Homo sapiens: one gene and its partner. The protein of the gene in region 2 interacts with the protein of the main gene of each other region in a biochemical or structural test. Each region holds a gene or a part of one and is shown on either strand. Other genes may lie near its edges.

The links.
Region 1: the proteins of DNM1L (region 2) and MFF form a complex in vitro, tested with the Homo sapiens proteins (one study listed by BioGRID).

Annotation. Positions count from the first base shown.
Region 1 is NC_000002.12:227,335,163-227,338,989, reverse strand, and holds part of MFF (mitochondrial fission factor), read right to left. Parts: intron 1-3,827. UniProt on the Homo sapiens protein: Plays a role in mitochondrial and peroxisomal fission. Promotes the recruitment and association of the fission mediator dynamin-related protein 1 (DNM1L) to the mitochondrial surface.
Region 2 is NC_000012.12:32,738,217-32,742,043, reverse strand, and holds part of DNM1L (dynamin-1-like protein), read right to left. Parts: intron 3,781-3,827; coding exon 3,748-3,780; intron 1,981-3,747; coding exon 1,804-1,980; intron 1,636-1,803; coding exon 1,526-1,635; intron 1-1,525. UniProt on the Homo sapiens protein: Functions in mitochondrial and peroxisomal division.

The DNA of each region.
Region 1 (3,827 bases), on a different chromosome or scaffold from region 2:
CTCAAGTGTTCTGCCCACCTTGGCCTCCCAAAGTGTTGGGATTACAGGTGTGAGCCACTGAGCCCAACAAAAATACTAAAAAAAACAAAACAAACAAAAAACCCCCCACTAAAATAGCCATGGCAACATTATGGTTTTTTTTTTTGTTTTTTTTTGAGACAGAGTCTTGTTCTGTCGCCCAGGCTGCAATGCAGTGGCACAATCTCGGCTTGACTCACTGCAAACTCTGCCTCCCGGGTTCAAGCAATTCTCCTGCCTCGGCATCCTGAGTAGCTGGGATTACAGGTGTGTGCCACCACACCTTGCTCATTTTTGTATTTTCAGTGGAGACGGTGTTTCACCATGTTGGCCAGGCTGGTCTCGAACTCCTAATCTCATGATTTGGCTGCCTCAGCCTCCCAAAGTGCTGGGATTACAGGCGTGAGCCACTGCGCCCGGCCGACATTATGGTTTTTAAAAAATTAAACTTTATAGTAAAAAAACAAATAGTGTGTGAATTAAGGACTTGAAAATTAAGATTTTCAAAATATCAATCAATATTTATTGATGTTTTTGGTTGGGCACGGTGGCTCACACCTGTAATCCCAGGTGGATGTTTTTCTTTTCTTTTTTTTTTTTTTGAGACAGAGTGTCACTCTGTTCCCCCAGGCTGGAGTGCAATGGTGCTATTTCAGCTCACTGCAACCTACACCTCCTGGGTTCAAGCAATTCTCATGCCTCACCCTCCCGAGTAGCTGGGATTACAGGTGCATGCCATCTCGCCCAGATAATTTTTGTTATTTTTAGTAGAGATAGGGTTTCACCATGTTGGCCAGGCTGGTCTTGAACTCCTAACCTCAAGTAATCCACCCACCTTGGCCTCCCAAAGTACTGGGATTACAGGTGTGAGCCACCATGCCCGGCCTGGATGTTTGTTTTGTTTCAATCTGAGATTTTTTTTTTTTTCCAGATAGGGTCTCATTGTGTTGCCCAGGATGGAGTACAGTGGCACAATCTTGGCTTATGCAATCTCTGCCTCCCGGGTTCAAGAGATTTTCATGCCTTAGCCTCCTGAGTAGCTGAGATTACAGGTACACACCATGACCAGCTAATTTTTGTATTTTTTGGTAGAGATGGGGTTTCACCATGTTGGCCAGGCTTGGTGATCTCTTGACCTCAAGAGATCCACCCACTTCGGCTTCCCAAAGTGCTGGGATTACAAATGTGAGCCACTGTGCCTGGCCTCAATGCAGAATTTTAAAATGTCTTTCAGAATCATCCTTCAGTGGTTATGCACTTAGTTTTATTCATCCCGGAGGCTGAGAAATAGTTTCCTAAGTTCAAGCAGCTTCCTGGAAGTTGGGTCACAGTGTCTAGTGCTACATAGTTATATAACATGTAGCACTAGACACTTTGCATGCTTGCATACAATTCTCCTTTAATATGCTTACACCCCAAGTTAAATTTGATTGTTCATAAATTCCTGGGCAAGTAAATGTCCTCTAGGTTTTTTGATGGCTGATTCTCTCAATCTGTTCAAAGCCCACCTCTTCTTCAGGAATCTACTCAGAGCCTTCGTGTTTTTCCTCTATACTCACCCCCATTTTCTGTGGGACTTTTATGCAGAAGGGGGAAAGGTACAAATTATCAATGTAGACTGAACAGTTGGGATAAATATCTTCCCTCCCCAACATGTGCATTGTCCAAAATTTAAAATCACGAATCATGGGGAGAACAGTTAAGCCAGTGACTGCGGGTTTTGGGAAGGACACATAGCCCAATTTGTCAGGAGTGACGAGACCATGCTTGTGCTAAGAGGGCCATAAAACTGTAGCTGTACAAAGAACGCAAGTGTCCATCTCTGAATTTTCCATGCATGAATGTGTAAACATATATACAATTCAGCTTTTCCTCTTCTCTCCAGACTTTTGCTCCATTCTGCTCATTGCAGTCCCAGCTCCTCTTTCCAGAAGTGATGAGGAAGGAAAAAGAGCTCAAGAAACCATCACCAAAGTGTGATCAGACCCATATTCATGAAGTTCTTGATTTTCTAAGCTTCCACAGGACCCTTTTAAATATTCACTGAGTCCCTGGGAGCCCTTCTGCATTTGTTTTAGGATATGTCATATAGCTATGGTTTTTTGCTTCACATCCTTAGCGTTGTCATATCAATTGAACTGGGCACCAATAACCATCTGCTACTTCTTTACGGTAGAATTACAGGTCTAGGGCCTTCTGCTAGACATTCATGGCTTTTGTGTCATCCTTCAGATTCTAAGGCTGCTGCTTTCTAAGTATAATCTGTGTTAAGGGTGGATCTAGCTAGATATTTCTTCTACTCCTCCAGCTCTGGCTGTACACTTTGGATATAACTGCTGTAGAATTTGGCATCCTGTGGAGGATGCCATTTGATGGCTTCTGTATAAAGCTGGCATGGCTTGGAGATAGTTCCATTTCTGAAACCACTCAATGCCTTTACTCTTCTCCTCCAAAATCAGGTCAGATTTTATATATGCCAACTGATTTTGCTCTTTCCAGATTAATTCCTAACTATTGACGATTCTTGTGTATATCTGGGGTTCAGTGCTCTTCCAAAGATTTATTATAGAAATGAATAGTATTCTCGTATTTCTCCTCTTTGAAGTAAGAGATGCCAACTTGGGCAAAAGCTTTTACTCTCTATCTTTAGACCAGTCTGTTTTTTCTTCCAACTTCAATGGCCTTCTCACAAAGCTCTTAGGGTTTATTGTAGCTGATTTTTTCAAAGCATATCACGGCTTGATTGATAGGATTTAACGGCAGAGTCCACATCTTTGACTTAGTCACACTGTTCAAGGTTGTGTCAAATCTTCTTACAGGCAGCATTTTCCAACTCTTTCTTTACAGTTCTTCTTTCTTGTTCTCTGGAAGATCCTTCCCCACTGGCTCCAGTTCGGATTCCTTTTTGAGAAGAGCTGGTAATGTCAGTGTTACAGCTTCTTTCTCCTCATTCACACTGCCTAGTCTACTGTAGGAACACTGAAAACTGTCATGACTTGGGCATTTTGTATTTCATGCCCAGATCACATGGTTTATTGAACAGTTGCTTTGTTAGTTCCCAGCAGACAGAATCACCAAGCAATGGTCTTATCTTAGAGCTGATTTCCAAATATTGGTGGAGATTAGGCATATTGAAAGTGTTTGTCAACTTCCTCTCTTCCAGCCAAGCCTCACATTTTTAAACTGTCTTTGAGCTAAGGGATTATTTATGTTATGTTTTAAGCCCTCCTCAAGGGCTCACCTGGATTCTTTAAGCCAGTTTAAGAACTCAAGTACAACTGCTTTCTACAAATTTATCCCTTGCATCAATCAGGCTTTCAGACAACAATTTTATAGGCTTCCTCATAAGCCTTCTCCTTTCTTGAGATAGGTCAGTGGTTTTCAGTAGGGGGTGATCTTGCCCTGTAGAGAACATTTGGCAATGTCTGGAGGTATTTTCTTTTTTATTTTAAAACACACATAACATACACAATTTTAACCATGTTGAAGTGTACAATTCAGCGGCATTTAGTACACTCACAACGTTGTGTAATCATTACCACTATCTAATTCCGGAATATTTTCATCAGCCCAAAAGGAAACCCCATACTGATTAAGCAGTCACTCTCAAGTCCCCTCTCCTCTAACCCCCTGACAACCACTGCTCTGTATCCTGTCTTCATTCATTTGGCCACTCTGGATATTTCATGTAAGTAGAAAAATGCAATATATGGCCTTTGTTGTCTGGCTTCTTAAACTTTACATGTTTTCAAGGTTCATCCATGTTGTGGCATGTATCAGTACCTTTTTTTTTTTTTTTTGAGAGACAG
Region 2 (3,827 bases):
TTTATTCATAATAGCCAAGAAGTGAGAAAAATCCAAACATCAGCTGATGAATGCTTAAACACAGTATATCTACATAATCTAGTATTATTCACACAAAAGATATGTCACTTAATGACACGGATATGCTTTGAGAAATGCATTATTAGGTGATTTCATTACATGCACAGCACAGAGTGTACTTACACAAACGTAGATGGTATAGCCTATGACACGCCTAAGCTATATGGGATAGCCTATTGCTCCAGGCTGCAAACATGTACAGCATGTTACTGTACTGAATAGGGAACTGTAACACAATAGTATTTGTGTATCTAAACATAGGAAATGTACAGCAAAAACATGGTATCATAATCTAACGGGAACACATTCAAATACGTGGTCTGTTGACTAAAATGTTATGTGGTGCGTGACTATACTGATTCATACTACAGTATGGATGAGGCTTAAAAACATTAAGTGAGCCGGGTGCAGTGGCTCACGCCTATAATCCCAGCACTTTGGGAGGCCAAGACAGGTAGATCACCTGACGTCAGGAGTTCGAGACCAGCCTGGCCAACATGGTGAAACCCGTCTCTACTAAAAATACAAAAATTAGCTGGGCATGGTGGTGCACACCTGTTATCCCAGCTACTCAGGAGGCTGAGGCAGGAGAATCGCTTGAACCCAGAAGGCAGAGGTTGAAGTGGGCCAAGACTGCGCCACTGCACCCCAGCCTGGGCGACAAAGCGAGACTCCATCTCAAAAACACCTTCTGCAGAGGATGGGGGCAAGGAAGGAAACAAATGGAATTTTTTTCTTCAGGCCCACAGTGTAAAACACTAGGAACTGTTATTTCTACTACAAGCTACGGGTTTAAAAAGTCTACAAGCAAAAAAGATAAATGGTTCTACAGACAAAAATCATTTATTTCAATATGAAGTATTAGACTGTTTATTACTCTGTGCAGTAAAATTCATCTTAGCTGCTGACAGATTACCAAAAACTGGATGCAGAATATTTTCTAATAGATCACTTCACACAACTAAATGTATATTCTCCCTATTACTGCATGAAATGACATACCAGGCAACATGAAGGAGAAGATGCAGTAGGGACTAGACACATGAAAAAACATTCTGAACGAGAAAAAATACACATATTTCCTAGTAAAAGACATTCGTTTTGATACTTTGGAAAACCAAGTTAAATTAAAAAGGCAAGTCAGTGTTACTAGCCAAAATAATTAATGAAACTACTAAATTAAAATTTAGGAAAAAGATTTTCTTAAATGACTCAAAATGTGGCAGCCAGATAGAACAAAAGAATCTCTCATTTTTAATAGCTTTTTCTAGCTGATACATGAGGTCCTAGTCATTCTATGTTAACAAAATGGGTCTTGCTACAAGTTACCCAAGGACTATCAGAAAATCCACTTGATGATTTAGAATAAAAACCTAAAATTGTAAAAATACATGTATTTTTCAAAACAGATCACAGAATCATCCAGAAGTATTAAAGTCCGTCATTTATATTAAGTAATACTAACCTGTCTTGAATATTCTTTCTGACAATGAGAAAATATGATTTAATGAGTCGTTCAATAACCTCACAATCTCGCTGTTCCCGAGCAGATAGTTTTCGTGCAACAGGAACTGGCTAAATAGGGATGAGGGGGAAAAAATATTACTTTTGTGACACTAAAATGGCAGCTTTAACATCTGAAAGTTATGTAAGTTTTTGAGACTTTTAGTTCTTTCTGTCTAATCGTTTTCCTACTAACTTGGTCACCTACCTTATTACCTAAACCAAATTGTCATGGCTTACCACATCTAGCAGGTTCACGGCATGACCTTTTTGTGGACTGGCTGGCATAATTGGAATGGGTTTTGATTTTTCTTCTGCTAATAACTCTTCAGCTTTTGAAGTTTTCAGCATTCCTCTCCAGTTGCCTGTGGTTGGTTCTTGAACACCATCTCCAACCCCACCACCTCCAGATGCAACCTGAAAAAACATGTTCCAAAACATACCAACCACATCATATCTGACCTTAACTAAAACAAAGTTCATTTTATTTGACAGTAGTCAATATACATCCAGTACCCATCTGAAGTTTATTCAGACAGATAATGAGGTCAGAAGGAGACACTAGGTAGCATGTATAACTGGAACCCTGACCTATCTAAATAATAAAGAAGTTCTGCTCTAAGTTGTTTGCAAGGCATCAACCAACTTATGTTCTATTTAATTCCTTTTTTCTTTATCATTCGCTAACTTTTCAAAATCGTTCCTCTTCTCCCACCCTTCAAACACTAAATTGTAGGAAAAGTATATGCTGCCCTTAAAAACAAAACTACTCGTTAAAAGCACAAAGAACTGCTATTCAGTTTAATTTCTTAAGTAATCATTAACACTGTTAAACTCTAAAAGTTCCATGAACTTACGTCTCTGAACTTAAGAGTTTATATGTTTCTCAATTTACATTTCTAATAGTCAACAAAAATGCCATAAGGTATAAGTAAGAACTCTTTAACAAAAAGCAAGACTACATTTGCTATTCTTAGGCTGACAGTCACTGTGAGTTGTTTCAAATGCGGAATGTGACAAACAACAGAAGTCCCCTCAACCTCTGTACTCTTAAGGATTTGCTGAAAGAAATCTAGTGCTACCATTAATCACAAGTGCTTTTGTACCTTGTTTTCTAGAAAATGTATTAGTCTTGACTTCTAAAAGTCAAAAATGACTTTATAATGGAAAAACAATTCATCAACATTTAAGAGGGTTTTTTTTAGGTATTCTTTAAGATCTTACAATCTAAAAATGGATTATATAAGTTTAATAGAGGATTATGGCAGTTAGAAAAATGGTAGTTTGAGGTATCATTCTGAATCAAAATATTTGCTAAAATCTGTCTTTAGTATGTCAGTTAAGGTGAACTACATTTAAATATAAGTAGTATATTTATGTTACACATTAACTTAAAAATGAGTAATTAGATTTTTAAATGTTTGTTAACTATACATGAATGACATACCAAATGAAATCTTAAGGAGAGAGAGCACATTCAGTGTGACGTCATGAATGAAATAAAACTTGTGCAGTGATTTAGATGGTTTGATTAATATCTGAGCACAGTGGGCTGAGAGAAGATAAGACATTTATAAACCTTTATTTGAAGTTCAGAACTTTAAATCTGGATAATTAAGGAAAGGAGCTAAATGGCAGAAAATCTTGAAATAGCGATGAGTCTGAATAATTTATACATTATTTAATTTTCCTCTAAAATGGTTATCAAGAATTGAAAACAGTCTCAAACTCTCACAGTCCCCATTTGTTTTTTTAATTTGCTTAAGCTTCTGAAGCATATGTGAAGCTATATATAGGGTAACAAGTGCAAACTAACTGGAAGCATAAGAAAGAAGCATTAGATCTATTAGTACTGAACAGATCTCAAGATCTTTAAAGAGGAAAGGAAATGTCCAAAAATACAATTCCATCTCTGAAATCTAGGAAATCTCTGAATTTCCTACCAAAATACTAAATTTAAAACTATTCTTGAAGGTAACAAAACAGTGAGAAAGCCTATTATTGTTACTAATTAAAACAACGTTTAATGCCATCTTCCACAGGTTAGATAAAAGGAACATTAAGAACATAACACAGACAAGAGATAGATACCACTACACAAACAGGTTCTTTAATGGTGGTATAGACAGTGTTTCAGTGAGAACCAAAGGTACCAACATTTCCATTCTGAAGCAAGAGACTCACATTTTTAGTTTCTCTTCTGCTGTCCTGAATTAACTGTTAAAAGATATGTTAAAACATGCAATTTAACAAGCAAAATTTAA